Regions from separate parts of the Homo sapiens genome. Here all the other regions are linked to region 1. Evidence: fine-mapped expression QTL. A gene starts in region 1. Each other region holds a variant in brackets. All regions are shown on one strand. Distances are between the middles of the regions.

Region 1 (10,058 bases):
ATGGTCTACAAAGTCTCTACCTGCACCCAACTCCCAGGGACATTCCAAGAAATCACCAAGGCATGAGGATGGAGCTGGTGGATCACCCTTGTCTCTAACCACCGCACAGCCAAGTCCTGCTCACACAGAGACTCCCGGACTCCCAGGGGACCCAGGGCCACCCCTCACTGACCTCCTGAGCCCCTCCCCATGCCTGATGCATGAGAGGCAGATCCCATCTGTCCCCTGTCCCCTCCCCTGCTTCAAATACTCATGAACTCCCAGCTGCCTGCAGATGGCCCTCCTGTGCCTCACCCCTGCAGAGGACCCCACACCCCAGCTGTCTTTGAGGATGTCTGTTCCCTAAAGCTGGAGGCAGAGGCCTTGCCTCTCTGGATCCGTCCTGCCCTCCAGCCCCATCCTACCCACCTGCTGTTCCCCAGCCCATGGTTGTGGCTGCCCTTGGTCTGCCAGCCTAGTGCTGGGGCATTTCTTACCTGGCACCCTTTAGATCCCTTTGCATGTAAATCTTAAAGAAGAGGGAAAAACAACAGAAAACGGATTTGATGCAAACAAGATACAAAATAAAAACACACGAGGCCCTGCCTGGCCCTCCCACGGCTCAGGGGCAGGTGGAGAGGACCAATGGGTACCTCAGGGCCACACCTGTGTGATGCCTGAGCGGCCCTCAGCCCACATGCCGCGCCTGCGCCTCTGCCTGGCCACCTGCTGCAGCTGCGCTTCCTCCCTCCCTGGCCTTATGTACGGAGGGGGCCAAGCCTGACCGGGTGGATTCTCATCCTCCCAGCCTGTGAGGCCAGCCGGGCGTCTGAGAACAATCCGTACTTGTTAATCTTTTATCTGGAACCTTGGACCTCAGGTCGGCCCCTCCATCCTCCCTCCTGGGATTCGCCACACAGCCCCTATAACCTGACCTCGCCTGCTGTGGGATTAAGTAACTATGTTCCCTTTTATGCTGGCTGAGGCTGTGGGAGAGAGTGACAGAGGCAGGCTGCTGAACCCAGTCTCACCTAGACTCGATCCCCACCTGCCAGTGAGTCCCTGTGTGACCTCAATCTGGGTCTCAGTTCCCCCAAATGTGAAACAGGAACCTTCAGGAGGAATTTCTCAGAGTTTAAAGGGGGTGACTTTTGCACACAGAGGTGCTTTGAGAACAGGACCCCCAAGACCCTGGCAGTGGGGACAGGCCTGGCCCCAACACTACATGTGGGTGTCCCACAGCCCTGGCTGTGTGTCTTCAGGTAAGTCACTTGCCCTCTCTGAGCCCATCTCCACATGGAGGGTGAGCACAGGCTTCAGAGCCACTTCTGCCTTCCATCTCCAGGCTGAGCAGCAGGGTGGCCTCAGGATGTGGAAAGCACACAATCCTCCATAAAAGAGCTGGGCTAATTCCAAATGAGGAACATGTACTCCCACATCCCTGGTGGAAAACCGAGGGTCCGGGAACCTATGCCTTCTACCAGCAGCTCTTTCGATGCCAATGGGTGGCAGGAGGCCATAGCCAGGCATCACAGGGTGTGTCTGCCTTGCTTTGATTTACACATGCATTCACGGGGTCTCAGTTTCTCCTCTGTAAAATGGACACAGTCCAGTTCTGGGGCAGGAGTTCAGGGGTGAAGCCAAGAAGGCACCAGCAGAGCATGCCTCCTGCTACCCCCTCTCCAGGCCCTTCCTCCAAGGCCCTTCCACGGATGCCAGGGGGGTTACCTACAGCCACTGGAACCCTGCTTTCCTGGACAATCTCCCAGATCAGGGAGTGCTGGGGCTGACCTGGGAGCAGGGCCAGGGGCCAGTCATACAACAAACATGATAAACTCCTACTCTGAGCTAGTCTCCCCCGCGCCCTGCCCTTCTCCCAGGGCGCTCATGGGAGATGAGGGAAGACCACTTCCTGCCTCTCAGGAAGATCAGTCTGTCCACACTACTGTGCTCTTCATATCTACTCTAGGAAAACCAGTGGTAATGGCCCCATTTTAAAGATGGTGGGAAAAACACACATCCCCGTGCTATGTTTTTGGTTTTTGTTTTGTTTTGAGACAGAATCTCGCTCTGTTGCCCAGGGTGGAGTGCAGTGAGGTGATCACAGCTCACTGTAGCCTCGAACTCTGGACGAAAGCAATCCTTCCACCTTTCAGCCTCCCGAATAGCTGGGACTACAGGCGCATGCCACCATGCTCAGCTAATTTTTTTTTTGCATTTTTTGTAGATACGGGGTCTTGCTATGTTACCCAGGTTGGTTTCGAGCTCCTGGACTCAAGCAATCCGCCCACCTCAGCCTCCCAAAGTGTGGGATTAGAGGCATGAGCCACCACTCCTGGTCAGTGGTGTTTTAGTGTCAAATCCTCTCCAAAGGCTCCCAACCCCCCAGCCTCTAACTTCACAGCACATTTCACAGAGCAAGAAACTGAGGTCACATGGCAGGGGAGTGATGGAGTCCAGATGATGGCATCATCCCTGCACCAGAACAAGTACCCTCCCTGGGCTCCACTGGGCCTGTCCACAAGCTTGGGGGCAGGTATACAGTGGGGAAACTGGGGCACATGGGGAAACTGAGGCACAGAGGTACAGCGACTCACCCCAGGTCACAGGGGGGATCCTAACCCAAAACTCCAACAAGGGGGCCAGTGCCTGGGAAGTGGTCATGGTGGTCAGAGGCAGAGCCAGGGCCAGGCAGGATGAACAAGAGCACAGGGTGCCAGACTAAGCTCCATTCCCAGCACAAATTCCAAGGCAAACAGCCTTTTGTATGCAAATATGCCAGAGCCTCCAGATACTCCCTGGCCTTGGGCTGACCTTGGGCAAGTCAAGGCTATCCAAAGGGCACTGGCACCCACGCCCCCAGGCTGTTGTGCCAGTAGAAGGGGCTCCTCAGGTAGTACCAGGCCCTGGGCAGGCCTTGCTCAAACACAGGAGCAAAAGTGCTCATCACCCCAACACCAAATTAGGGACTCTGGACATTAGGCTGCCAGAGTCAAACTAAATAAACCAAATCCACCAGCGCCAGGAACAAGTCTCAGCGCCCACTTTGCTGAGCTGCGGACCTCTGCTCGGTGAATTAGCTCCCTGAGCCGCAGTTTCCCCAACTGTGAGAGGAAGCCATTCTCCTGCCACCTTCCTGCCAGTTCCCTGGGGCTGCAGGCTGACAGTGTGACCTGGTCCAGCCCACCCCACTCCGGGCCTCAGCTTCCTCCTGCGCAGAGCCTTAGCCCCGCAACGCCTGAGACGCCCAGAACCCTCAGGCCTAACGTTCGTGGGCAGTGGCCGCGGAAGTAAGCTTTTGGGATATCTGAGACCCAGAGTTCCGGTTTGGTTCCGTTTCTAAAAGGGTTAGACTTTAGAATCATTCAAGGAGCAAGGCCAGCATTCGAACCCCGGAGCCTTGGGCACGGGAGCAGACAACTCTTTAAGCACATTCTTGAATTCAAACACTTAAAAGTAAAATAAAAAGCAGCTTCTCTTCCTTCCAAAGGCCTCTGAGCCTCCTCCGAGACAGCCGAGGCGATCCCAAGCCTGGCTACAGGGTGACCTCGGACAGCCACTCCCCTCTCGCAGGCTCAGTTTCTCCATCTGTAAAGTGGAGCTGCGCTGGTCACCAAGGAATCGTGAAGATGACACCTCCCTCAGGCGCAGAGAGGGCTCCCGGCTCCCCCCTCCCGCCCCCGCGCCACCCGCCCGCCAGGTGAGGCCGGTTTCGACTTCCCCGGGAGGGGCGCGGAGGGGCCCGGAGCCTGCGGCGTGGAGAGGCTTGGCCGGCCGCGCTGTCCGCAGACGCCCGGGACCAAGGCGCTGCGGCCACTCGGGAACGGGCGCGCGGGCTGCTGCGTGCAGCCGCCTGGTTTCGAACTGCTCGCTGCCAGGCTTCGGCTCCGCTAGGGCGCCTGCTGGGCCGGCGGAGGGTCGAGGAGGTTCGTCCTCGGGGCAGATCGTTGCTGTGGCCCCCACCCACGGCTGTGCGGCCCCGCGACCCCCTCCCCTCGGCTTTCCCGTCTGTGAAATGGGCGCAGAGCCCCGCACGCGGCCACTCGGCCCCAGCCCTCACCTGTGCGGTTCCCTGGGGCAGGCGTGGTGACCCCGGCCCGCCCCCGGGGCCTCGCCTTGCCACGGAGGGTGGCGGCCGCCCAGCGCATCCTGCGCGCTCCGAGGCGCTTGGCGGGGTCTGCCAGGGGAGTGAGCCCGGCTTGTGGGGGCGGGGCCTGGGCCTGGGCCTGGGTGAGGGGCGGGGAGGCCCCGCCCTCCACGCCCGCCCAGGGGCGGTTCCATGCAACTTACAGACCACGCCCACACGTTGGACTGGGGCCGAGGTCCGGCCGGGGGCTGTGGGCGGGGGCCCTTGGGGAGACCAAATACCCAGCGGGCCAAGGCAGCCGGCTGAGCGGAAAGTGTTGCTACTCCGGGGCGTTGCACGCGTGGCTACCTCTGCCCAACACCCTTCCCCCATCCCTTCCTGTTCTCACCTTCACTCCTAGTGTGGTTTTTCCATGTGCTTCTGTGTTTTTATTTTTTGAGCAGGATTTTGCCTTCTCAGGGTGCCGGATTCGGCCGGTACCAAAGGGCAAACAGCAAAACGCCTCCCCGGCCCGCCCCTCCCGTAACCCACTCACCCCCAGAGTCCTGTGTGGACCCAGCCTTCTTTCCCTGTCTCTCACTGGGCCAGGCCGTCTGAGGCACACTGAGGTCTGGGTGCCCTTGTTGTCTTCGGTTCTCACTGAGGGGCCCCCGGCTGGGGGAAACAGGATGGAAAGCCCTGGGGTCTGTCTGCAGGGCCCACCACACCTGGAGGCCTCCCTTCTCCTGGCTTCCCCTTCCCACCCAGCTCCACTTGCAGCAGGCCCAGAGCTGTGATCCGGGCTCTTTCTCTCCCTCTGACCCCACCCAACCCAGGCTTAGCCCCCTGCCCAGGCAGCCACCAAAGGGTTGGGTGTGGTGTCAGGCCTCAGACATCCTGGATCTTGGGCTGCTTGTGGGAGACCACCTGAGCCATGCCTATTCCTGTGGAGCTGGCAAAGGCAATCCTGGCAGAGGGAACAGCAGGTGCAAAGGCCCTGGTTTGGCAATGTGTGGCAGCAGAAGCCCAGTGCGGCTGGCTTAGGCATGCCTCCAGGAGCGCAGAAGGTGGCCCAGGTGGGCCAGGCTGGCTCTAGAGTGCCTGGCAGGTGACCGTGAAGAGTGTGGATGTTCAGGTGGACCATGAAGCAGGGTTCCAGCAGGGCAGCCCCTCCCCGTCTCTGCTTTCCGAGCCCTCCAAAGCTGAGGTTCAGTGTGAAACGTGAGGGGCCCTCCCCCTTTCGCCATCAGGGTTGGCGTCACCCCTGATATGTTCTTCCCACTTGGACTTGTGGGTCACACACGATGGCTTACTTCAATCTCCTTTATTCAAAATCAAGCATGTGTATTCTTTCTGCCATGTCGGGAAGGGCAGGGCCATCAGCAGTGCCCACTCCAGACCACACTCTGGGACCCCAGAATGTCTTGCCAAGTGGCCCCTAGCCCACCTCTCAGGCCTGTGTGGTCCCTTCCCTGGTTTTGCCCACCATGCACCACCAGGCAGAAGGCCACTGCCTGTAGGTGCATGGACAGGGCTGGGAGGGAGGTCTGGGGCAGCCCTCCAATAGCTGGGTGGAGCTAGGTGGGGATGGAAAACACCAGGCTGCCTGCAGCTCCCTAAGCCACCACGCTGTGACCCAGGCCTTCAGGAGCCTTCAAATGCTAAACACCTGGCCATTTAGGAAGTGTGTTTCCTAGAGCTGTGTAACATAGTACCCCAGACTGGGTGCCTGAGAACAACAGAAATTTATTGTCTTATGGTTCAGGAGGCCAGAAGTCTGAGATCAGGGTGTCGGCAGGCCTGCAGTCCCTCCAAAAACTCCAGGAGAACAGCCTTCCTTGTATCATCCAGCTTCTGGCAGTTCCTTGGCCGGTGGCAACTTAACTCCTGTCTACACATGGTGCTCTCCCTGTGTCTCTCTGTGTTCAAATCTCTCTTCTAAGGACACCAGTCATATTAGATTAGAGCCCACCGTAATGTCCTCATCTTAACTTAAGACCCTATAAAGAGTCTGTAAAGACCGGCCAGGCTCAGTGGCTCACGCCTGTAATCCCAGCACATTGGGAGGCAGAGGCAGGTGGATCATAAGGTCAGGAGTTTGCGACCAGCCTGGCCAACATGGTGAAACCCTGTCTCTACTAAAAATACAAAAATTAGCTGGGCATGGTGGCGCGTGCCTGTAGTCCCAGTTACTTGGGAAGCTGAGGCAGGAGAATCACTTGAACCCGGGAGGCGGAGGTTGTGGTGAGCTGAGATTGTGCCACTGCACTCCAGCCTGGGCAACAGAGCAAGACACCATCTCAAGAAAAAAAAAAAAAAAAAGAAGAGTCTGTAAAGACCTTGTCTCCAAATAAGGTCATATTTGGAGGTACTGAGGGTTAGGACTTAAACATATAGATTTTGGGGGACACAGTTCAGCCCCTGACAGGTGGGATCAAGGAGGAAAGAGCATGTTTTTCTGAGCAGTCTGTCGCTTGGTTGGGTTGTGGACATTCAGGCTTGTGGCGCTGGGCCTCCATTTGTACTGTTAGGGGACCTGGAGGTGGCCTAAGGACCTCTGTCATGTCGTTTCCACAGGGAACTGTATGCCTTGCTGTGGCTCAGAACACCCATTTGCTGCCAAAAGGCCATCTTCAGGAGCTATGGGAGGGATCTGAGGCTGGTTCTGGAGGTGGGCCTGTCACCTATTTGAACACTGATCAGGGCCATCTTGTCCACCTTTTCCCAGGCCCTTGGAATGGTTTGCTCCTAGAAAGCCCAGCTATTCTAGCCATGCACGTGGGCGAAACTGAGGCATGTGAAAAGAACGGCACTGGCCCACTAGGGACAACCGCCTGGGGTGCCCCCTTCCATGGTGAGAACCATGGCTCTCTGACAGGCTTCCCTGATCCCTGGGGCAGGGGTGGGCACCCTTGCACTGAGTCTTCGTGTTCTCATCTGAGGGGTGGACATTGTCCTGCCACCCTCTCAAGGCAAGTGAGAGACTGTGATGTGCTCAGGATGGAGTGGTGGCCTCTAAGCTGGACTGTGAAGGCCCGTCAGCTTTTGAGCTTGGCCCACCCGCTCAGCTGTCCTAGTTGCCTGGTTTCCCAGACTCTCCAAGTCTAGGCACAAACTGGGAGCAGTGCTTAGGCTCTGCCTGCTTGGGTGTGTCTCCTTGCCTTCCTCACCCTCCTTCTCCATGGAGCCCTCCCTGATGGCACTCCCTGTCAGAGCCATTTCGTGCTGCCTGTCCTTAAGGCCTGCTCAGCCTGTGTCACGTCTCTGAAATGAAGAGGACATGTGGCCAGGTGTGGAGCTATGGACATGTGGCCGGATATGGCCGAGAGGATCACTTGAGGTCAGACACACCTGTAATCCCAGCTACTTGGGAGGCCGAGGCACGAGAATTGCTTGAACCTAGGAGGCGGAGGTTGCAGTGATCTGAGATTGCACCACTGCACTCCAGCCTGGGTGACAAAGGGAAACTGTGTCTCAAAAAAAAAAAAAAAAAAAAAAAAAACGCAAAACATATGGGCTTCCCTGCTGGAGGAGGCAGGGGAGGAGGCTAGGAGGAACGGATGGGCTGCTGGCTGCTGGTGAGGCAGGCCGGGAGAAGGAAGCAGAGTCAGGCACAGCCTGAGGAACTGACCAAAGCCACAGCCTCTTCCCAGCTCCATTTGCAACTGGGAGCACACAGTGCACTGTCAGTGGACACTTGTTGGATGGAACCTGGGAGGCAGGGGAGGCCTGCCAGCCCTGGGGCTCAGTGTTCCACTCTGTAACATGGGGGTCTTGTGCGCTGCCAGAGGTTTCCAGAGGAAGGTGAGGGTCTGGCTTGGGAGTTTCCTCTTTCCTCAGACCTTAGCTGAGGTGTTGCCACCCCCAGGAAGCCTTCCTCAACCCTTGATTTGCCTGACTCAGCACCCATGGGCCATGGTGGCCTGGGAGGGGACCCATGCAGAAGTCTGGTGGTGGCAGAGTTCTTGGCTTGGTGAGTTTTTCTAAAATTAGATAATAATTGTGGAAATCTAAAACAGTTTGTTTTGCCTTTTTTTTTTTTTTTTGACAAAGTCTTGCTCTGTCACCCAGGCTGGATTGCAGTGGCATGAGTTCAGCTCACTGCAACCTCCACCTCCTGGGTACATGCAATTCTCCTGCCTCAGACTTCCAAGTAGCTGGGATTACAGGCATGCACCACCACGCCCAGTTAATTTTTGTATTTTTAGTAGAAACAGGGTTTCACCATGTTGGTCAGAGTGGTCTTGAGCTCCTGACCTCAGGTGATGCACCCTCCCTGGCCTCTCAAAGTGCTGGGATTACAAGTGTGAGCCACTGCGCCCAGCCTGTTTTGCTTTATTCTTGATTTTAGTTTTTACTCAATAGAAAAATGAGATTTTTGTTCTGAAAACCTCTCACAATAGACCACGTCCAGAAAGTTCTTTTGCAAAAGGTAAGAGTCAGGGAAGCATTGGTGGCCTCATGGGTGTCCTCTCTTTTTAAAAACTGTATTACCTTTTAAAAACTAAAAGCAAAAAAAGAAAAAAAAAAAGTAACCTGACCTTGAAGCTCTAGCAGGCCAGATGTTTGCAGAGAAAACAATTTTCCCAAAAATGTTTTCTGCTGGGCCATCTGGAGCCCTCAACACCCACCACTTATCCTCCTAAAGCAAGGCAAGAGCCCTGTCCCCACTGTGCAGAGCGACAAAGGCCCCTCCCCGGGGGTACTCCCCTGCTGGGGCCTGAGCTGTGACCACCAGACTGTCCTACCTGGCTGCAGCCTGCACAAGCAGATCAGTCAGCCTGGGTGACATGACATCGAGCTGCCGCCCTCAGGTTCAGAAATGGTGATGCAGAGACACAAAGCAAGGCGCCCAGAGGGCAGAAGGAATGACAGATTCATGGAACAGCTACTACCAAACACCTACTGCATGCCAGGCCAGTTTAGAAGCTGGGATACAGCTGGGCCTAGGAGGGACAAACTCTGGCCAGGGGCTGCTCCCCCCATGCTCATCCTGCACACCAAGGCCTTTACCTGGCCACCACTGGGCTGGCAGATAGCAGGTCATCTTTTTTCCCACCCCTCAACTCTTTTTGTACTTTCTGAATTTTCCACAATGAGCATGTATCTATTCTCTGATAAGAAACAAGGATTTTAAATGCTTTGTAAATGTAAACTATTGCAAAATTTCCCACGGCCATTCTGATGTTCACTTGTCGGGAAAGATGTGGACTGACCTGGGTCCTCGGCTGCTAGGATTACACGGCATTACCATGCTCTAAGGAGTTACAACCAAGCATAGGATTTCAGGTGGGGGGTTGTGCTTTCATTGGCCTGGAGCTGTTCCCAGTTAAGCTGGCAGGTCAGGGGGTGCACAGGTGGGTCAAGGGCAGCCCGAGGCTTAATGCTGAAGAGCCAGTTAAGCTTCTTTGATGCCCGGCACCTGCGTAGCGAGCAGCGTGGGCCGCCAAGTGCCTGGTCACTGGAGAAGGGTGAGAGCCTCGCCTCCTCCCTCCCCACAGGCTTCCTGCCAGCTCCCACCCTGCCCCCGAAAGAGCAGTGGCTGCTCTGCCCTCACCAGCCCCCAGGCTCAGCGTGTTTTCATCCTGCCTCTTCACCAGCCCTCTGGTGGCCTCAGGTAAGCCCACACCCCCTGGGCTCCAGTTTCCCCACCTCCTCTCAAAAAGGGCTGAATCAGAGGGTCCTGACAGCCTGGGGCAGGTGCAGTGTGTCTGGCAGCCATGCCGCTGAATCTCAGAGTCTCTGCTCAGGCTGCTGAGGTTCCCTGGCTTATACCTTTGGAGAAGGCATTCCTGCCCGCCCCCCCGCCAGGGGGTATGGGGGTTACATCTGGATATGGCCCTCGGGTGGCCTCTCAGTGGCCTGTAAGGCTGGCTGAGACTCATCCATACAGAGACATCAGAGAGACTCAGCCTTAGGAAGCTCCTTGGAAGTCTCCTGTTTTACAGATGGGGAGACTGAGGCCTGCGGCGAGGGGAGAGTCTCCCTACAAACCAGGCTTTGGAGCCTGTCT
Region 2 (10,058 bases), 40 kb after region 1:
CTTGTGGGCTGGCTGCCATAAGGCACACGAGAACACAGACGGGGAGAGGCAGGGAGGCTTAGGCCTCCCTGGCCGCTGCTTGGGGTGAAGAACTAAGCAGTCCTCTGCATTACCGAGCCTCCTAAGGACCTTGCACTGTTAATACATGCTTTATGGGACGATTCACACATGTTAAGAGCATAAATGTTCACTTGGAGCTCAGAAGATTCTCACATGTGTGCCCAGCTGTGTGACCACCTCCAACCAGGTAATGGACATCCCCACACTGACAGGCCTCTGCGTGCCCACCTTACAGAGTCCCCTGCAGTGACCACACAATTCATCAGTGCCTGGACTCAGACATAGCTTCACCTCCGCACACCCAGGCCCCCAGTCACAGTGAGCAGGGCAGACTGGCCCCTCAGCCCTCCGCCTCCAGGAGGCCCTGGTCTGACCCTCCCTCTCCATCTTCCCTATAGGTCATCCTGGTCTGACCCCCTGCTCTGCCTTTCACCCCTGCTGACCGCTGAGCATGGGGCACTTACCCCTGCTGCACCCGAACTGCCTTCGGTGGTCACCACAGGCTCCACAGGGCTGGTGCTCGTGATCTAGAAGGGACACAGAGGCCGAGTGAGAGGAGATTCCAGGGCCACGCAGCCACTGTGCAGCGGGGGGACAGTTCCTGAAGCCCCCAGCACCTCTGTGCATTGAGGGCAGGCTCGGGAGCAGGATTTCCCAGGCCTAGGATTTGCTGTGCCTCTGGGGAAGCTGCTCCCTCCCTGGGCCTGGCCTGAGCTGGAGGCCTCTCCTAGAAGGAGCATCTCCCAGTGAGGTGGGTGGCTGGTGGGTGATGCCTCCCTCTGGCCCGCCCTATTCAGGGGCTCTAATTTACACCAAGTCACCCAGTGAGTAAGGAGGGTCCCTTTGGGTTCTCTCTCATCCTCCAGGGTTCCTTGTGGAGTCTCTGCAGCTCCCCGACTTTCTCAGCACAGTGAGGCTCCGGGCTCAGCCTCTGAACAGAAAGGGCTTGGCCAGACTTAAGGACAGCCAGGCTCAGTGTCTCACATTCCCAGGTCACCTCCACTCAAGGCAGTCCCAGGACTCTTTCTTTCTGGATGGTGCAAAGTTCTTGCAAAGTAAATGCAGAAAGCAGAAAAAACCTAGCGGACTTGATACAAATATGAAGTGGATATGGGGGAGGTGGGCTGTGCCAGGCAGACCCCTGGAGGTGGTAGGGAGGGCAGAACCAGCCTGGAGTTGGGATTCAGGCCTGCGGGGTCTGGGTCAGGCGGCGAGAGTTGGGGCACCCTCACTCTGAGTCATGCCTGGTGCCCCCGTGAAGGCTGGAGCAGAGGGCCTGGCATAGGGTTCAGGGCACCGTCTCTCCTGGGTGCCTCCCTGGATATGTCCTTGCTACACTTCCAACCCCTATGCCTTGTCCAGGGCCAGTGACTCCAGGGCCTTCCTCGCAGCGGGCAGAGATCGGCCTCCTCACCCAATCCTCTCTCCCTGACTCCAGGGAAGCCCCGGGAGGAGAAATGGCCGGGGATTGGCCCTGGGGCTGCAGCCCTGACTCCCTGGCCAGGCTTCTCGGCAAGGACCCTGCAGCCCCGCCTCTTTCCCAGCCTAAGTCTCCATGTGAAATCCCCCTGGGCCCTTGGGGCAGCTCCACGTGAGGATGGGGAGTGAGATGCTCCTATTGCTTCCCTCAAGGGGCTCTGAGCCACCATCTCCCAGGGCACGGGGGCACTGGGAGGGAAATACAAACACAGAAAGGTGTCTGCAGTCATAGGCTGTGCTAGACCAGACAGAGTGGTACGCGGGCAGCGCACCACAGCCCTGTGATGCCAGTTCCACCACCCATGGCCTGGGGACGTCACAGAGCTCCTCAGACTCAGTTTCTGTGGGGATGATGTAACATACCTTTGTGTGTAGGATGCTGTGCAGAAGGCACCAGACAACCAAACAGGTCATGAAGGAGCGCTTCCTCCACGCCCACATCCTGCTTTCCCGCCCAGCTGGGCGCTGACCACGGGCCTGGGGCCCAGCAGGCTGCAGCGGCACTTAGTGGAGGGTGGGTAGGGGTGAAATTAAGTTCAGCCTAAAGCTGCCATGGAAAGGTGGCCGACTGTTCAAACCATGTTCAAATAAGGCAAACGCGGAACTGTAACCAACCCAGCTGTTTCTGTGCCTCACTTTCCTTTTTCTGTCCATAAATCCTCTCCAACCACACAGCAGCACAGGAGGCTCTCTGGACCTATTCTGGTCTCAGGGGTTGTAGGGGGTGGGTGTTATCCCATCCACAAATAGTTGTTTGCTCAATTAAATTGTTAAATTTAATTTGTCTTAAGTTTTTATTTTAACACAAGGGAGTGCCCGCTGTCCTGGTCCCTGGTGTAGCAGGAGGAAAGCCTGGAGGTCAAGCTGCCCACCCAGACGCCAGTGCCTTCTGCTCTCCACAGGTAGCCCGTCCCCTGGAGGTCTCTCTGCACCCCGGGCCACTGACTCACAGGCATGTCTGGAGAGAGGCTGGGGTCCTCATCCTGGCTGAAGGCGCCACCAAAAGCCTTGAAGGTTTCGCTGTTCTGTTTGTGCTTCTCGATGGTGGCCTGGATGATCTGGACACAGCAACACAACAGTGAGGACTATAAAGGGGCATGGGAGGATGCTACCCACAGGAGGGACGCGCCTGCCTCTGTCCCGAGGACGGGCCTTGGCGTTCCCAGAACAATGCCCAGGCCACTGGCCATCTCCCTTCCCCCCTACCAATGATGTGGTCTCCCCTTGGAGCTGTCCAGATTGAGGAGATCCACCCTGAGCGGGGAACCTGGCCTGTGACTCCACCAGGCCCGCTCATGTTTATTTGGGGGCCCTCAAAGAAATGAATGGGTTGAAGGGCTTGTGGCATCTGAAGCTGCTTATGAAGGCACAGTGTGGTCACTGCATCCCTGCAGGGTACAGCACAGGGCCAGCAGTCCCGGAGGCCAGGGCCCCCACCCTCTGAACCAACATGAATGGCCTTACTGCTCAATCACTTGGTCATTTGGTTACTTTACAACTTTAGAAGCTTCACCTGAATCCATTCTTTCTTCTCTTCCTCTGTCCTAAAAAACCAAAACGGTCTTGTATTAATCCAGTCTTGGATACTGACTCTAAATGACCAGCCCTCTCTCAACCCTGCAGCACACCCGAGCCACGCACTGGCTTGTCAACGCAGCTCAAGGATTGGAAGATTGGCCCCAAGGGCCTCAAAACACTCGTGGCCTGGTGGGGCCAGGTGAGCCATGTGGAGCCCTCTGCAGTGGCTGTAATTCAATGCCTCCTTGGACCATAATGGGTCATTATGAAGATCCCACTGTTGGTGGGGTGTGGGAGAACAGAACTCCCATGTATGGCTAGTCAGAGCACAGCCTGACATCACCTTAAAGGGTAGTGTGACAACAGCCACCAACATTTCAAACAGATGCACTACCCTGTGACCAGCAAATCTATGTCAGCAATCTGACGGCTACAATTACACATATGCAGAAACACCTAAAAACAAGGACACTGCTTGCAGCCGCATTTGTGATGGCCAGGTTCGGGAGGAGCGCAGGTCCTCGTCAGTGGGAACTAGCTAATGATCATAATGGAAAATTGTGTTGCTTTAGGAATGGTGTGCAGATATGGGATGATTCTTGACAAATTAAGTGAAAAAGCAAGGTGCAGGACAGGTTATACAGTAAACAGCCATCTGTGATTTAAAACATAGATATATGTGCATGTGCATAGAAAATCCTAGAAGGGGCTGGGCACGGTGGCTCACACCTGTAATCCCAGCACTTTGGGAGGCCGAGGGGGTGTGGATCACCTGAGGTCAAGAGTTCGAGACCAGCCTGGGCAACATGGTGAAACCCCGTTGGGTTTTCACTCAAACAAAAAATTAGCCTGGCGTGGTGGCGGGTGCCTGTAATCCCAACTACCCAGGAGGCTGAGGCAGGAGAATCACTTGAACCTGGGAGGTGGAGGTTGCAGTGAGCCGAGATTGTGCCACTGCACTCCAGCCTGGGAGCGAAACTCCGTCTCAAAAAAAAGAAAAGAAAATCGTAGGATACTCAAGAGAGGACTAAGAACGTGCTGGGCCTGCTGAACAGGAGGTGGGCAGAGGCTTAATTTTCATCAACTTCCCTTGGTACT[A/G]AAACCGCCCCGAGTCCCATAGATAGTTTATCTGATAAACATACAAATTGACCCTTCTGGTCTTAAAGCTTGAAAGTTAACATTTGTTTTATCTGAGTTCCTTCCTCAGAAAACACCTTCAGGCCTCTCAAAAAAACCATCAAGGGACTGAAACTCACCAGGTCACCACATCCAGACAATGAGATGCCCAGACCCTTTATTCATCATGATTGCTTCCTTGCCCCTCCCTAGTTCCTGTTTTCTTACACATTGTTACATTTATTCCCTGCTGTGTATGCCCCTAGTTTTAGTTGGTCAGGGAGATGGATTTGAGACTGAGTTCCCATCTCCTCGGCCAATTAAAGCTTCTTCCTTGGCAATAATCATCTCAGTGATTGGCTTTCTGTGCAGCAAGCGCAGGACATAGACGGAACCCTGGTGCTTCAGTAACAGTACTTTTAAATTTTAAGCCATGCATAAATAAAAATATATTACAAGGTTAACCAGTTTAGAAAAAGAAGACATGAGGTCAAAGACATTCACTAGAAACAGCCCGTTCCATACCGCGTCTGCAGCTCCAGGGACCTTTTTCTTCCTGTTATGATGAATGTATGTGCTGTGTTTGGCTTGACGATATCCTGCACCTGAAGGGGCAAGAACAAAGAACAAAGCAAACCCAAGCTGGTCATTTTAGCTCCAGCCTCATGTTTTCTGACTTAGAAGTGTTTCCCCAAGGAGGTAACAGAGGTGAGCCTGCAGCCCCACAGTTCTGCAGGGAGAGGGGTGCAGAGGCTTAGGTCAGCGTGGCTGCTACATGAGCTGGTCCATCAGGGACAGCGGGCCTCCCATCCTGCTCAGACACAGCTATGACCGCTCATCTTCTGTGCTTGGAACTCTGCTGACCAAACCCACCCCCCCGACACCCAGCCCGTCAGGCATCCTCCCCATGTCGCCCCATCCATCCTCCTTAAAGCCAAGCCATTCCCCACAGGCACCACTGGGCACTGCCCGCCACAGCAGCCACGTCCCCTTAGGATGGAAAGGGATCTGATGAGAAGAGCAAGGATGGCCTTAGCCACCCTGCAGAGTCTGAGCCCCTGAGCAGGTGCGCCCTGAGATTAGACATGTAAATAGGACAATGTGTGCCCAGAACTAATGAAAATGGGGTCACTTCTTCATAGAACCGCAGCCACAGATTCCATCCTCTTCCATCAGGATAAGACCACAGAGACCATGGCCGGGCGCAGTAGCTCACGCCTGTTCCATGTCTCATTGCAGTGGGGTAGTTGGGGGACTGGAATGGGTCCCTGTCCCCTGTCGGGAGGGCTTTGAATTAATGGGTGCTCCAAAAATATTTGCTAAATCAAAATATGTAATCATTTGCTTAATGCCACCAAAAATCCCTTCTTACCTTGAAATTCTCTGAATTCAGGTTAAGAAAAAAAACACTAACTAGAGAAAATACCTTTTTTTAAGGTTGTTTCATTATTATTTTTAAAATTATTTTTGAGACAGGGTCTTGTCCTGTCAGCCAAGCTGGAGCACTGTGAGTGGCACAATCATAGCTCACTGCAGCCTTGACCTCCTGGGCTCAAGCAATTCTCCCACCTCAGCCTCCCAAGTAGCTGGGAATAGAGATGTGCGCCACCATGCCTGGCTAATTTTTTATTTTTTATAGAGACACGGTTTCACTACATTGCCCAGGCTGGTCCCGAACTCCTGGGTTCAAGTGATCCTCCTACCTCAGCCTCCCAAAGTACTAGGATTGTAGGCGTGAGCCAGCGAAACTACGTGCCCAGCTTTTTATAGTAGTTAGAAGAAACCACTTTTCTAGTGTTTCTCTACAAAAAATCGGTCATGGCTGGGCACGGTGGCTGATGCCTGTAATCCCAGCACTTTGGGAGGCCGAGGCAGGTGGATCACGAGGTCAGGAGTTTGAGACCAGCCTGACCACATGGTGAAACCCCGTCTCTACTAAAAATACAAAAATTAGCTGGGCGTGGTGGCGCGCACCTGTAATCACAGCTATTCTGGAGGGTGAAGCAGGAGAATCCCTTGAACCTAGGAGGTGGAGGTCGCAGTGAGCCGAGATCACACCATTGCACTCCAGGTTAAGAAATACCATTAAAAATAATGACTGACTAGGCTGGGTGCGGTGGCTCATGCCTGTAATCCCAGCACTTTGGGAGGCCAAGGCGGGTGGATCACGAAGTCAGGAGTTCGAGACCAGCCTGGCAAACATGGCAAAACCCCTTCTCTACTAAAAATACAAAAATTAGCTGGGTGTGGTGGCACACACCTGTAATCGCAGCTACACAGGAGGGTGAGGCAGGAGAATCCCTTGAACCCAGGAGGTGGAGGTTGCAGTGAGCCACGATCATGCCATTGCACTCCAGCCTGGGTGACAGCGAGACTCCGTCTCAAAAAAAAAAAAAAAAAAAAAAGAAGGTCATTCTGGACCATGCTACAGATCTGCCTGGAACCCTCCCCCCGGCTCCGGTGCAGGAGGACAGGAAAGAGCTCAGGACCCAGGAACCAGACAAGGGAAGCCGGCCCCCGCCCCAGCCAGGATTGCTCCCTGCAACCCTGGGCTTCATGTTTGGGTTTGTAAATAGGGCCCCGAGTCCCAGTCTCACAGGTGACAGGATTCAGTCCAGGTCCTGGTGCCATCCCTACTGCCCCCTGCATCCTCCAAGGCTCTGCAGAAAGGGGAGTTGGCAGCAACGTGGCAGGTGGGCCAAGCAGAGAAGGGTGGAATCCTGCCCTTCCAGCCTGGGGCACCAGGACTGAGACAATGCCTTGGTCACAGATAGGGTCTATGGCTTGGAAAAGCAGGTAGGGGTGCCAGGCTGCACAGAGGTGAGTGCCTCAGCGGCCAGAGCCTGGTGTCCCCAGTCCTGCTCAGTGCCCCTTCCAGGGGGACAGGTTTGAGATGGAGGAGCTCACCCACCTGGAGGCCTGAGATGTCCATCTTCTCCCGGACGCTGAACTTCTGGCCCATGAGCCGCAGCTTGGGCACACAGTAAAGGATCATGCTGTTGAACTGCAAGAGGGATGGCACAGGTGAGGAACGAGAGCTGCCCGCAGGTCCCCCCAGGGGCCCCAGTGAGCTTCTCACATGGGATCCTTTTCATTTTTTTTTAATGTTATAAAGTGAAAAATATTTTTAAAAGATATGTGCAGTAATTTTAACTATGGTTACATCTTTGAGTGAGGAGACTCTAGTCGCTAGCTTTATTTTTGTTCATTTCTATTTTTAAATTTTTAAACCATGAACATGAGCTAATTGTATAATTTAAAAAAAAACCTTTTTTTATTTTTTTGAGATGGAGTCTTGCTCTCGTTGCCCAGTCTGAAGTGCAATGGCGCAATCTTGGCTCACTGCAAACTCCGTCTCCCGTGTTTAAGAGCTTCTCCTGCCTCAGCCTCCCGAGTAGCTGGAATTACAGGCGGGTGCTACCACGCCCAGCTAATTTTTGCATTTTTAGTAGAGATGGGGTTTCGCCATGTTGGCCAGGCTGGTCTCAAAGTCCTGACCTCAGGTGATCCGCCCACCTCAGCCTCCCAAAGTGCTGGGATTACAGGTATGAGCCACCACGTCCAGCCAAACCAAATCTTTTGAATGAGCTACTGATACATTCACCAACATGGATGAATCTCTCAAACCCACATGGTGAGCTAAAGGAGCCAGACTCATCTCATGGCATTGATGTGACATTTGGGAAAGGCAAAATTCTAGAAACAGAGAAGAGATCCATGGTTGCCAGGGCAGGCGAGCGCTTGCTCACAAAGGGGTGGGACAAGGGAACTGGGGGGGTGGGCGGGGGCAGTGATCAAATTGTAACTTGGCCAGGTGAGGTGGCTCACGCCTGTAATCCCAGCACTTTGGGTGGGTGGATCACCTGAGGTCAGGAGCTCGAGACCAGACTGATAAACATGGTGAAACCCCATCTCTACTAAAAATACAAAAATTAGCCGGGCGTGGTGGCGCACGCCTGTAATCCCAGCTACTCAGGAGGCTGAGGCAGGACAATTGCTTGAACCTGGGAGGTGGAGGTTACAGTGAGCCGAGATTGAGCCACTGTACTCCAGCCTGGGTGACAGAGCGAGACTCTGTCTTAAAAACAAAAACAAAAACAAACAAAAAAAACTTGTTCTGTAACTTGATTGTGGTCACAACTGTATTAGTCAAAACTCAGAACTGTAAAGCAAAAATGAGTTTTAGTTAACGTAATTTTTAAAAACTTAAAAAAAAACCTTTCAAAGAAATAATTGTTTATTCAAGGAGAATCAGAAGCTAGAGGAAAATGGAGGAGGAAAGAAGAACCACATCTGTTTCTACCGCGCCATGGCACCCGGGGGGGTCTCGAATTACACTTCCATCCCACCTTCCCCCTCCCTCCCGGCCAGGGTTTGGCTCAGGAATAGTTGAAACTGTGATTCACTGCTACAGTTCTCTGTGCTGTCCTGGTTGCTACAAGCTGAAGTCTGCTCAGTTCTGGGGACGAAAGAGGTATGGGCTACGAGGGATTAAAAAATGAGATATTTGCAGCAAATGGGGAAGAGCCACTGGCAAAAGTTTGGTGTCTGGATGTGGAGGAGGGAGGCTCCCTATGGCTGGGGGAGGGATGCTGAGGGTCTCAGAGGGAGCCACAGTCCCAGTAGGAGAGGCCACAGAAGAGCCATGTCCTTGGGCAGCCAGAGCCCTCCTGGCACTGCCCTGGGCTTGAGGCAAATGGCAAGGGAGGCTCTGCGGCTGGGCTGGCAGGGGCCAGGCTCACCAGGAAGAGGTGGCGGTCCTGGGGGGTGCCGTTCTTGGCTGACAGTTTCTGGATTTGGCCCTCCTTGATCAGTTCATTGGCCGGGTTGACAATGTCTTCTTCCCCACCCAGCTGCTCGTACACCTCCAAGAGCTTGTGCATTTTCTCCTGCAAGAGACATGGGACTCAGGCACCAAAGGTCTGTGAGAGTGGCTGGTGACCTAGAGATGCACGGAGTCCTTCCCTGCAACCGTGGCCCAGAATCCAGAGAGGGCAATGAGCTACTGACAAGGGTGGGAGGGAAAACAGAGTGATGTTTGAGTTGGGTATTGAAGGATGAATAGGAGTTCACCATGCAGAGCATAAAAACAACGATAAACAGGAACAGAGCTAACCATTGCTGTGAGCCATGTGCTGTTCTACATGATACATGTTTTAACTCACCTAGTGAGGTGAGTGCCATTGTTATCTTCATTTTACAGACAAGGAAACTGAGGCACAGAGCGGTCAGTTGAGTATCTGAGACCCAGACTCGGACAATCCATATGTCACCTTCCCCTGACCATGGTGACTGGTGGGGTGGTCACATGGGTAACCAGCACCCAGAAGTGCGATGGGACAGCGTCAAAGCTCATGCTTCAGCTCTGAGCCAGACGCCAGTGTAGCAGAACGCAGAGGTGAGCCTGCGGCAACCTCGACAACAGCCACATGTCTGAGTCTGTACCTGCTGTGCCTTGGAAGCCCCGTCCTTGGACCTGAGTGATCTCAGCCTGTACATCCTGGAGGCGGCTGGGTTTGGCTGACCCTTCCGTCTCTGGCACCAATGCAGGTAGGTGCAAGTGGGCACAGGGTGTGGGGGGCACCAGAGGAGCCAGCAGCAGAGAGCTTAGAGGAGCAGACTAGGGTAGGGGTGAGGGTCTTTTGAGAACTGGGGGAATGGGCAGGTACCTGGTATATACACAGGGGAGCTGGGTGTGCACCTGCCCACTACTGGGGGCTGGGTGTGCAGTTGGTGTGTACCAGGGGGGCTGGGTGTGAACCTGGTATGTACTGGGGAGCTGCGTGTGCAGCTGGTGTCTAATAGTGGAGAAATGCATGCACCTGGAATGTACTGGGAGGGCTGGGCAAGCACCTGGTGTGCACTAAGAGGGCTGGGTGTGCACC
Region 3 (10,058 bases), 170 kb after region 1:
CAGGAAGATGAGGGAAAGTTTGGACCATTGTAGAGACTTGTTAAACAGTTGTGATTAAAATGCTGACAGAAAGAGGGACAGTGAAGGCCCTCATTGTTGCACCGGACACTTTTCAAGGTCTGTTGATCAATTTCTCTGTCTCTGATGGGACAACTCTGGCTCTTGAGGGTGGCTTGCTGACTGCTGGCTGCATAGCTCAGCATTCTGCTGTGTTCTGAGTAGAAGGGGTGCCTGTGGTTGCAGGGAAATCCACAGACTGGGGCTTGAAACTGCTGTTGGTGCTGATTTACCTTCGAGGCATGGCGCACATGGCAAAGTGGTATTTTCTCCTCCAGTATCTGTCCAACTGCTGTCATGAGCCGCTGAGCTTCAGCACTGCTGCTGTACATGCATGATCAGTTTTTTACTGGCTTTTGGCTCTCAGCAGTGACTGGTGCTGGCTTGCTTTTTTTCTCTGATAAAAACCTCTGAAAAAATTGCTTGATGTTTTCTCCAAAGTGGCTTATTGAAGGAGGCTGTTTCTTTGATGGCAGTAGCTGGATGCCTTCATTCTGATGGGTGTGTTCTGTCTTCCGTCTTCCTGCCCGGGGTAAGTTGAGGAGTCCTCAGTCCTTGAAACATTTCTTCATGTTTTTCTAAGTTGGGCTTCCTAGGGTTCTCCCTCTTGTGAGTAGGGGGAAACATTGGCCTTTGGCTCTGGCATGAACCTTGACAGTTTGGGTTCCTGGGCTCCTTGTGCCCCTGCCCCGGGTTGCTCCTTCTGGCTGCCATGAGGTCACGTAGCTCCTGGGAAGCCCGCATGTTCCCAGTAGGCGTGCTCTGGAGATGGCTCTGGGGCACTTGAGAAGCCAAATTCTCTGAAGCATGGGGCACAACAGATGCTTGCCCATCTGGAAGGAACACAACAGCGGCAGAAACTTGAGGCTGGGTCTCTGACTTCGTGGCCATTCCAGGCTCAAATTCACTAACAACCTCCTCCCTAAGACACAGCTTTCTTGGATCTTGGGAGACAGACATTCTAGGGAGGAGAGAGCTTTTGCTGGCCCCTGGAGCCTCGAAACCACGCACATCCTCACTTGTGGTTTGGATGTTTGCCAACATACAGGTTGCCAAGGGGACTCTGGGTTGTGGCACTGCCTCCCTGGTCTCTCCCGCCCTTGAAGATTGGGCTCCTAAGCTCCTGCTCTGCTGGGTGCTGCCTGTGAGGCTGTATGTGAGGGGCTTAGATGGCCACCTGCCCTCCTGTCCAGCTGTAGGAGCCTTCAAGGACCCATGATCATTCCAAGATGGGATCCTTCGTGGGGCCCTCTGGAACTGCTTACATGCAGGTGAGGAGGCCTGAAGCCTCTCTGGCATGTGAACAGATGCTTTGGTCAGCACCTGCTTTCTCAGACTTGCCATTGGTGGCTTTCTAAGGAACGTGGCCACCTCAACTTTTGAGCCAGCCCCAGATTCACAGGTGGCTGAGGAGGGACCGGCAAGCTGTGTATTGCACAAGGATGAAACCAGTTTAAAGCACTGAATGGGCTTGAGGACCCTGAGGGGTGGACCCCACCTGTGTTTGGCCCAAAACCTCAAAATGTGGGCTCCCAGCACCTGTTGAGTACATGGCTCAAGGAAGGAAAGCACCTGGGCTGTGTTCACACAGGCTTTCCCACTTTTGGGGGGTGCTAGATTGCTGGTTTTCATGTGGGTGTTGGACACGGGAAGAGCCTGGTTGACAGCAAGCCAGGATCGATGCATACTCACGGGGATCAAGCCCTCGTTGGTCTGGCCCAACCTCTTACCCATGTGGGCTTTCAGGATGTTTTCTATATGATTCCTGTCCGTGAGTCTTAATAAATCCCTACCGAGTCACTCCTCAAGGGCTTCCTCAAGTTCCTTTCTGACTCTTCAGAGGTCACCCCCAGAGTCTTCCCTGGGAAGCTTTCTATGCCCCTGGATAGATTTTGCGGGGCCTCACCCAGAATTTGCCCCAGATGTGGGCACAGGTCCCTCTCTAGCTGGAACTTCACCTTCTGTGCCTCCTTGCTGCTTTCACCTGTGGACATGGAGGACTGCCAGGACCTGGGTTTGCCCTTCGCCTGACTTTTCCCTGGCAATTCATCCCAAAGCTGCATCAGATCCAGAGACTCTTGAATCTTGCCCTGGTGTTGAATGAACCACTTTTCAATATGTTGCTCTGGAGTTCAGGACTGACTGGAAAGTTCTCAGGCAGAATGGGTGTCCCCTTTCCTGGGGAAGGTTAGGAGTGGAGACACTAAAGATGTCCTGAGATTTTTGGACCCTAGGGGGTAAAGCCAACCCACCTTATAGTTGTTTCCTCAACAAAGGCCATTCAGGGTGCTGAGTTTCAGGTAGGGAGAGAGCTTGCACTTTATTCTGCGACGCAGGGCAAGCTACTCCAGTGTTCTTCATCGGGGATGGAAAAGCAGGAGATAGGACTGGGAAAGAGGATTGAAGATGGGCCTGAGCCATAGGTGTGGGCCGGAATTGGGGTGTGGATGAAATAAAGGGTTGGGACTCAGGCCCCAGATGGGACAGGGGCTGGGCCTGGAAAAGCAGTGGGGACATTGTAGTCTCCCTTTGAATTGGGCAGACATTGGACATTTCATTGATGTAAGGATGTAAGACCCTTACATACAGTCAGTGACCCAGGCATTAGCCACCAGAGATTCACTGTGCAGAGAGGGGAGGCCCCAGAAAAGCTGGCTATAATTCTTCTGAAAACTTTCCTGCAAGAGCCTAGGATCTGAGAGCTTCTGAGGACTGGGCAGCTATTTTGAGTTCTCTCCCATGTTCCAGAAGGGTTTTGGGCTTGTGGTGTCCTGCTCAGCATCCAGTGATTTAACCAAATTCCCCAAAGCATTCAAGTGCTTTTGTGGGCTGTTTTGGAAATCGTCCATCATTTTCTTTTTCCTCTCAAATGTTGATTTCTGTGACTTGTATCCCCACGACATCCTGGCCATCAGAGCTGAGCAAAAATGGTCTACCAGCTTCCATCTGACAGGTCTCTGGTGGGTGGCGGGAAAGATGATCTTGCTGGACTGACGAATTGAAGACGCACCAGGTTCTGGTAGTCTCCTGCCACCAGGAGAAGGCAGAAACTTGACTATTTGAGCCGCCAAGACCTGAGATGGCTGGGACAGAAGCTGCCAAATCCTCACGTGGAGTCAAGCTTTGAGGGACAGTGTCCAGTGGAAGTGCCACTGAGTCACAGTTAGATGGAGTTATCAGAGTGGAGTCCCACAGGGGAGGAGCAGTGAAGCCTTTTGGAGGAGGCGGAGAGCAGGCCAGAGGATCAGGAGTGCGTGGTGGGTGAGGGAAAAGTGCAGGTGGCTCGGGTGAGGGATGTTCTAGGAGAAGGGAAGGTTCTGGTGGCTGGGAGGCACTTAGGGAGGAGACTGAGGTGGTCATTGGGCCTGGTGGTGGGGTGGAGGCCAGATCCTGAGGATGCTTGGTTCAAGGATCCGGGGAAGCTAACAGGGAGAGAATGGGAGCAGCATCTTCTATAGGCTCATGAGAGGACCGGGAGGCTCCATCAGGTGCTCTTTTGCCCACCTCACCTGGGGAGTCTGGACCGGAGAGCTGACCAAAGTCACCTTTTTCAAGGTGTGGCCCTAGGAGGCTGCAGGAGACAGGAGGCACAAGCTGCAGCCAGGAGCAGGTGGATTCGGAGGTCAGAGTGGGCGCTCGGGCCACAGCCCCTCCACCACCCCACACCCTGACTGCCCAATTCTCCTGCTACCCCTTGCCCCAGGCCTTTACTCTCATCCTCTGTCCCCCTGGTCTCCCCATCCCAGGTCAGCTCCAGGCTGCCTATGGCCCTGAGGTCGCATCCCAGCCCTGGTAGGAAGGATGCAGGGAAGGGGAAGTGCCTCACCTCTGCAGTTGTGAAAGCAGGTCCCAAGTCTCCTCCAGGCCTCTCAGGCACTCTCTACAAGCTGGAAATCAGACCGGGTTAGGGCAGTGAGGGAGGGGCCTGGGATCTCACAGGAGGCTGAGTGTATGTTTCTTCAGGGAAGACCATGGGGAATTAGACCCTGGAACCCACCCATCTGTGTCCAAAGCCACATGGCCCCGATGGTAATAGCAAGGCATGGAGGACAGGGCTTTGTCATTCACAAAGGGCTTCCACAAACAGGCCCCCCACCCCCATAGTCCTCACAACTGCCCTGTGTGGAGAAAGGACTGGGGTGGTCTCAAAGAGGAATCAGCCTTAGCAGAGTTGAACAGCTGTTCCCAGGGAGCGGGAGGCCCCCTCAACCCCCTCCGCATCCAGGCAGGCATTGGTCTCCCCAGAACACACACACTGCCCCCTGCTGGGTAACGCTCAGTCCCTGGCCCACCATGGCTTCATTCCGGCATGGAATCTGAGAAGGACCCGGGGTTCTGATTTCCTTCCTAGGAGCCCCCACCTCAGGCTTCTTCAACTGACTTCTTCAGAGTCAGTTCCCTCAGGGACAGACGAGATCAAATTAACTCTAGTGTGCCCTGGCAGAGCCTTACCTCTGAAGACTGTGGTTTTTCATCCTGCCTCTGGGCATCCCCCTCTGCCCTACTGGACACTGGGAGACAAGATGACGCGAGGAGACAAGATGACACTGGGAGACAAGAAATGGCGAGGAGCTAGGACCGGCTCTCCCTCTCCACCCCCAGCCCAGCCGCAGCACTCTGCACTCATGAACCGCATGGCTCTCTCTGTCTTGCTCAGGGAGCTCTGTGTGCTTCCTCCCATTCATGTTTAAATGGATGATAAACTGCTTTTCTTCTTAGAAAAACAGGAAGAGGGGGCCAGGCACGGTGGCTCATGCCTATAATCCGAGCACTTTGTGAGGCCGAGGTGGGTGGATCACCTGAGGTCAGGAGTTTGAGACCAGCCTGGCCATGGTGGAACCCTGTCTCTACTAAAAATACAAAAACTAGCCAGGTGTGGTGGCGGGCACCTGTAATCCCCAGCTACTCAGGACGCTAAGACAGGAGAATAGCTTGAACTCTGGAAGCAAAGGTTGCAGTGAGCAGATATCGCTCCATTTCACTGCAGCCTGCGCAACAGAGTGAGACTCCATCTCAAAAAATAAAATAAAATAAAATAAATAAAAATAACACACACACACACACAGACACACACAGAGGGATTTTCAATATGAGGTCCACCATGGACGCCATCAGTCCCTGTTCCTCTGCTCCTGGAACACCCAGGCTCAGGCCCACAGGCACCACTGAGCTGTCAGGTAGGATTCTGCTTCCCAGGAGACAAGAGGAGATGCCAGGCCCCGGTGGGAGGCCCTTGGGGGCCCAGCACAGGCCCCATATCACCCCACACAGAGGAGGTTGGGCCCCAAGCCACCTGCCCCAGGAAGGGGCTGATGAGCCAGGGCTTAGGGCCTGGCCTCGGACAGAGACCTCCCCTGTCTCATGACCAGAGACCTCCCCCGTCTCATGACCATTCCTGGCCGCTGAGCCCACGGGTTTGATTTTGCCTTCACGCCTCCTGCGCTCCCCAACAGATGGACTGAGGGCTTGGGATGGAAATCCCTGTACACAATCTACCCCTACCAACCCCTGGCTGCCCTGCCTCTCCCTGGAAGCATGATGTTCCGGTCTCTCCTGAGACTTCCCATCGCAGAAGTCCCTCCACTGGATTTGGAAAAGTGGAACTAATAATAAAAAGGAAGGAGAGAATCAAGCTCTGTGGGTCTGGACTGAGGGCTCCTTACCTTTCTCTTCCCAGGCGATGGTGAGGGTGGATCGTCACAATGGAGGTAAGATAAGTAGGGGAGTAATAGGAAGAAGAACCCCAGGGCAAACACCAAGGTGAGGAAGATATCCAACACCCATGGTGTGGAGCTGGGGGTGTTTAGCGATGAGGGACTAAGTAATTTTAGAGGAAAGGGAAGATTCTCCATGTGAATAGGTGCATTGCTTTCAAGCAACTGAGCTCTGGGCATCCCC[G/A]TGGAGGCTAGGGACTGGGGCCCAGGCCTGCATCACAGAGCTGGGCCTTCACATCACAAAGGGCTCCTTTGTTGGGGAGGGGCAGTAGGAGGGGGAGACCGAAGCACAGCCCCTCCCCACCCCCCAAGCCGGGGATCCCTCCACCTTCCCACCTTCCAGATCTCTCCTTCCCGCTAAGTTTTGTCAGTGATAGAACTCAGCCAATTTTCTATTCTTTCTCCCTGGAACACATATTACCTGGTTCCTTTTATCTGTTGGAGTTGGTGGCTTGAGGTTACCTATTTTATGGCCCTTGAAAATCTGAAGTTGACTCTGAAATTTTGGCTATGTACCAGGGATTTTTATTCTCAGAATCTCATTTGTCCTCAACTCCAGCTTTCCCACACAATGTTTTTGTCTTATATCAATCCAGGGACAAAATGTAAAGTTCTTTTACTCTTATTTAGTTTTGCAAATTTTGAATAGTAAGTTTTAAAAAAATTATTTCTATCTCACTTTCCTTTTTTTTTTTTTTTTTTTTTTTTTTTGAGGAGTCTCTCTCTGTCGCCCAGGCTGGAGTGCAGTGGCCTGATCTCGGCTCACTGCAAGCTCCACATCCCGGGTTCAAGCCATTCTCCTGTCTCAGCCTTCTGAGTAGCTGGGACTACAGGCGTCCGCCGCCACCACGCCTGACTAATTTCTTTTTGTATTTTTAGTAGAGACGGGGTTTCCCCGTGTTAGCCAGGATGGTCTTGATCTCCTGACCTCGTGATCCGCCCGCCTCTGCCTCCCAAAGTGCTGGGATTACAGGCGTGAGCCACTGCGCCCAGCCTTCTATCTCACTTTCAATCAAAGGGACCTACCCACATACAATTAAGATTTTTTTAAATTCTATTTATGTACTTATGTGTTTATTTTAAGTTCAGGGGTACATGTGCAGGACATGCAGTTTTCCTTTTTTTTTTTTGAGACAGAGTCTCACTCTGTCGCCCAGGCTGGAGTGCAGTGGCGCGCTCTTGGCTCACTGCAAGCTCTGCCTCCTGGGTTCACGCCATTCTCCTGCCTCAGCCTCCGGAGTAGCTGGGACTACAGGCATCTGCCACCGTGCCTGGCTAATTTTTTGTATTTTTAGTAGAAACGGGGTTTCACCGTGTTAGCCAGGATGGTCTGGATCTCCTGACCTCGTGATCCGCCCGCCTTGGCCTCCTAAAGTGCTGAGATTACAGGCATGAGCCACCGCATGGGGCCTGCTGTCTTATTTTAACGTCTCTCTGGGCTTGATAATTTAAAAGGACTGACATTCCTCTGATAAAAGTTATTTTATTTTCTCATTTTCCATCAATATATCCTGTTCAGTGAAATATCTGTTCATGCCTTTAGCCCATTTTCTAATTGGATTGTTTTTCCTTGTTGTTGTTGTTGACTTTTGAAAACTTTAAACAATATTCTAGATATGACCTCTTTGTCAGATATGGTTTATCAGGTGTGGTTTGCAGTTTTCTCCCAGTTTTTACCTTGTCTTTTTATTAACAGGCTCTTATGCAGGGCAAAAGTTTTAAATTTTGATAACATCCAATTAATAAATTCTTATAATTAATTGTGCTTTTCTGGTGTCATGTCTAATAATTATTCATCAAGTCCTAGGACCTGAAGAATTTATCATTAAATTTCATATTTTTACATTGAGATCTATGATCTTTTTTTTTCTTTTTTTGAGAGGGAGTCTCTCTCTGTCACCCAGGCTGGAGTGCAGTGGCACCATCTCAGCTCACTGCAAGCTCCACCTCCTGGGCTCACGCCATTCTCCTCTCTCAGCCTCCCCAGTAGCTGGGACTACAGGCACCTGCCACCACGCCCAGTTAATTTTTTTGTATTTTTAGTAGAGACGGGGTTTCACCTTGTTAGCCAGGATGGTCTCGATCTCCTGACCTCGTGATCCACCCGCCTTGGCCTCCCAAAGTGCTGGGATTACAGGCGTGAGCCACCACGCCTGGCTGATCCTTTTTTTTTTAAATAAAGACATGAGGTTAGATTGAGGTTCATTGTTTTGTCTATGGTATCTAACTGCTCCAGAACCACTGTACCATTGAATTGATATTGCATCTTTTTCAAAAGTCAGTTGGTTGTACTTGTATGGAAATATTTCTGAGTTCTCAATTCTGTTTTATTGAACTGTCTATACCCCTGCCAATACCACACTGTCTTGATTTCTGTAGCTACGTAAAAAGTTAAAAAATTGGGTAGAATAATTCCTCCCACTTTATTCTTCTATTTCAGACTTGTTTTGTTGAGCTGTATCATAGAAAAAACTATTCGTGACACCTGTTAAAAAATAGTAAGACAAACTTTATTCAGAGGGATTATTGCAATAGATATAGAGATTACTGCAATAGGGTCTTGCAGTAATCTCCAGTTTCCATATATTCAGGTTTCCCTCTGAATAGAAATTTTATAGCCACAGAGCAGGGTGGAGGGGTGGTAGTGTACGGAAAATTACTAATAGGAGGGAATCTGGCTAAACTGACCTCACAGAATTCTTGCTGAAGCCATGCCAGAGTGATCAGATATCACCTGGGGATAGTAGACAATAAGAAAACCAATTAGATATCAATGGTGATCAGATACGAAGATGGAGGATTCTGACTAAATTGCCTTGCTAGGATTCTTACTAATATTGGGCAATTCACAGACAACACAAAAGCCCAAAAGCCAGGGTTTAGTTGACAAGAGAGTTCAAAGGAGCATGGCTAGAGTCTGGTTATGGAGAGAATTTTTGTCAGCTGACTGGGTCTTCCAGAACTGTGTAGAATAAAAATGATGAGCACAGACATATTTTCCTTCTTCCCAAACTGAACAGGAAAGCATTCAGTCTTTTTCATCTTTTAGTTTGACATTAGCTGTAGATTTTTTTCTAACTTAAAAGTTAGAAAGTTTACCTCTGTTCCTAATTCCTGAAAGTTTTTTTTTCATTATAAATGGGTGTTGAATTTTCTCAAATTCTTTTCCTGCATTGATATAATCATGTAATATGCTTATCTTTAGCTTGCTAATGTGGGGGGTTACACAAATTGATTTTTGAATACCAAAACAGCTTTTTATTCCTGGAATAAATATCACTTGTTCATGGTTTGTAGTTATTTTTATATATTGTTGAATTATTTTTGCTATTATTTGGTTGAGAATTTTTCCATCTATATTCATGAAGAATACTGATTTCTTCTTCTTCTGTCTTTAGCTCTGATATCAGAGTAACACTGGCCTCATGAGTTGGAATATCTTTCTATTGTCTTCTTTCTATTCTTTTTTTATTCTGGAAGAGACTGGATATAATTCGTGTTAACCTTTAAATGTTTGTTAGAATTCTCTGATCTAGCTATCCAGGCCTTAAGATTTCTTTTTCAGATATTTCAAATTATGACTTCAGTTCTAGGGCTATTCAACATAACTATTTCATGTAAGAGAGAATTTGTGCTTTTTCAAGAATTAGTGCATTTCATCTATGTTGTGAAATTTATGTTTGTAGAGTTGTTTGTAGTATTCTCTTTATTCTTTTGATTTCGTCATGGTCTACAGTGGTATCTCCTGTTTCATTCTGGATATTGATATTTTGTGTCTCCTCTACAGATTTGTCAATTTTATTAACATTTACAGAACCAGCTTTTGTTTAATCGGTTTTTCTCTATTTTTCTTTTTACATTTTATTGAGTCATCTTCTTATCCTTATTATTTCCTTTCTTTCACTTGCCTTCGGTTTATTTTGCTCTTCTTTTTCTAGTATGTGAGGGAGCTTGGTTATTGCTTTGAAATTTTTTTCTTTTCTAATGTAAGCCCTTAGTGGTATATACATTTTTCTCTCACCACTGATTTAGCCACATCCCACAAATTTTGATATGTTGTGTTTCACTGTCATTCATTTCAATGTATTTTAAAAATTCATTCACTTTCACTTTCATTCATTTCAATGTATTTTAAAAATTTGAGACTTTCTCTCTGAACAATGGATTATTTAGCATGTGTTTTCACGTGTTTGGAGATTTTCCTTTTATCTTCCTGTTATTGATTTCTAGTTTAATTCTATTGTGTTCAGAGAACAAACTGTATGATTTCAGTTGTTTCAAATTTGC

What was found. PIP is the estimated chance that this variant, and not a neighbour inherited with it, causes the effect. A credible set is the group of variants that fine-mapping cannot tell apart.
Region 2: its variant is the best candidate, but not a certain one, in a credible set for the expression of SUSD3 in whole blood (INTERVAL, PIP 0.59).
Region 3: its variant is the best candidate, but not a certain one, in a credible set for the expression of SUSD3 in lung (GTEx, PIP 0.85).

The regions. Positions count from the first base shown.
Region 1 is chr9:93,052,812-93,062,869 of GRCh38, reverse strand. It overlaps SUSD3 (sushi domain containing 3), which reads right to left and starts at 4,169. Exons shown (of 5, transcript NM_145006.4): 1 at 4,040-4,169. The coding sequence starts at 4,127. RefSeq lists enhancers at 37-604, 1,995-2,044, 2,113-3,093, 3,094-4,074 and silencers at 3,585-3,994, 4,005-4,454.
Region 2 is chr9:93,012,856-93,022,913 of GRCh38, reverse strand. It overlaps FGD3 (FYVE, RhoGEF and PH domain containing 3), which reads right to left. Exons shown (of 18, transcript NM_001083536.2): 9 at 8,916-9,062; 10 at 7,085-7,177; 11 at 4,699-4,778; 12 at 3,053-3,083; 13 at 2,490-2,597; 14 at 525-587. LOC101927954 (a long non-coding RNA gene) reads left to right here and starts at 7,970. Exons shown (of 3, transcript NR_121565.1): 1 at 7,970-7,987; 2 at 8,420-9,723. RefSeq lists an enhancer at 144-1,044 and a silencer at 7,342-7,578. The variant A/G (reference allele first, on the strand shown) is at 4,156.
Region 3 is chr9:92,878,452-92,888,509 of GRCh38, reverse strand. It overlaps the pseudogene SPATA31B2P. Among named protein-coding and RNA genes, the nearest start is that of ZNF484, 5.4 kb to the right of the region's middle. RefSeq lists enhancers at 4,859-5,375, 5,376-5,893. The variant G/A (reference allele first, on the strand shown) is at 5,956.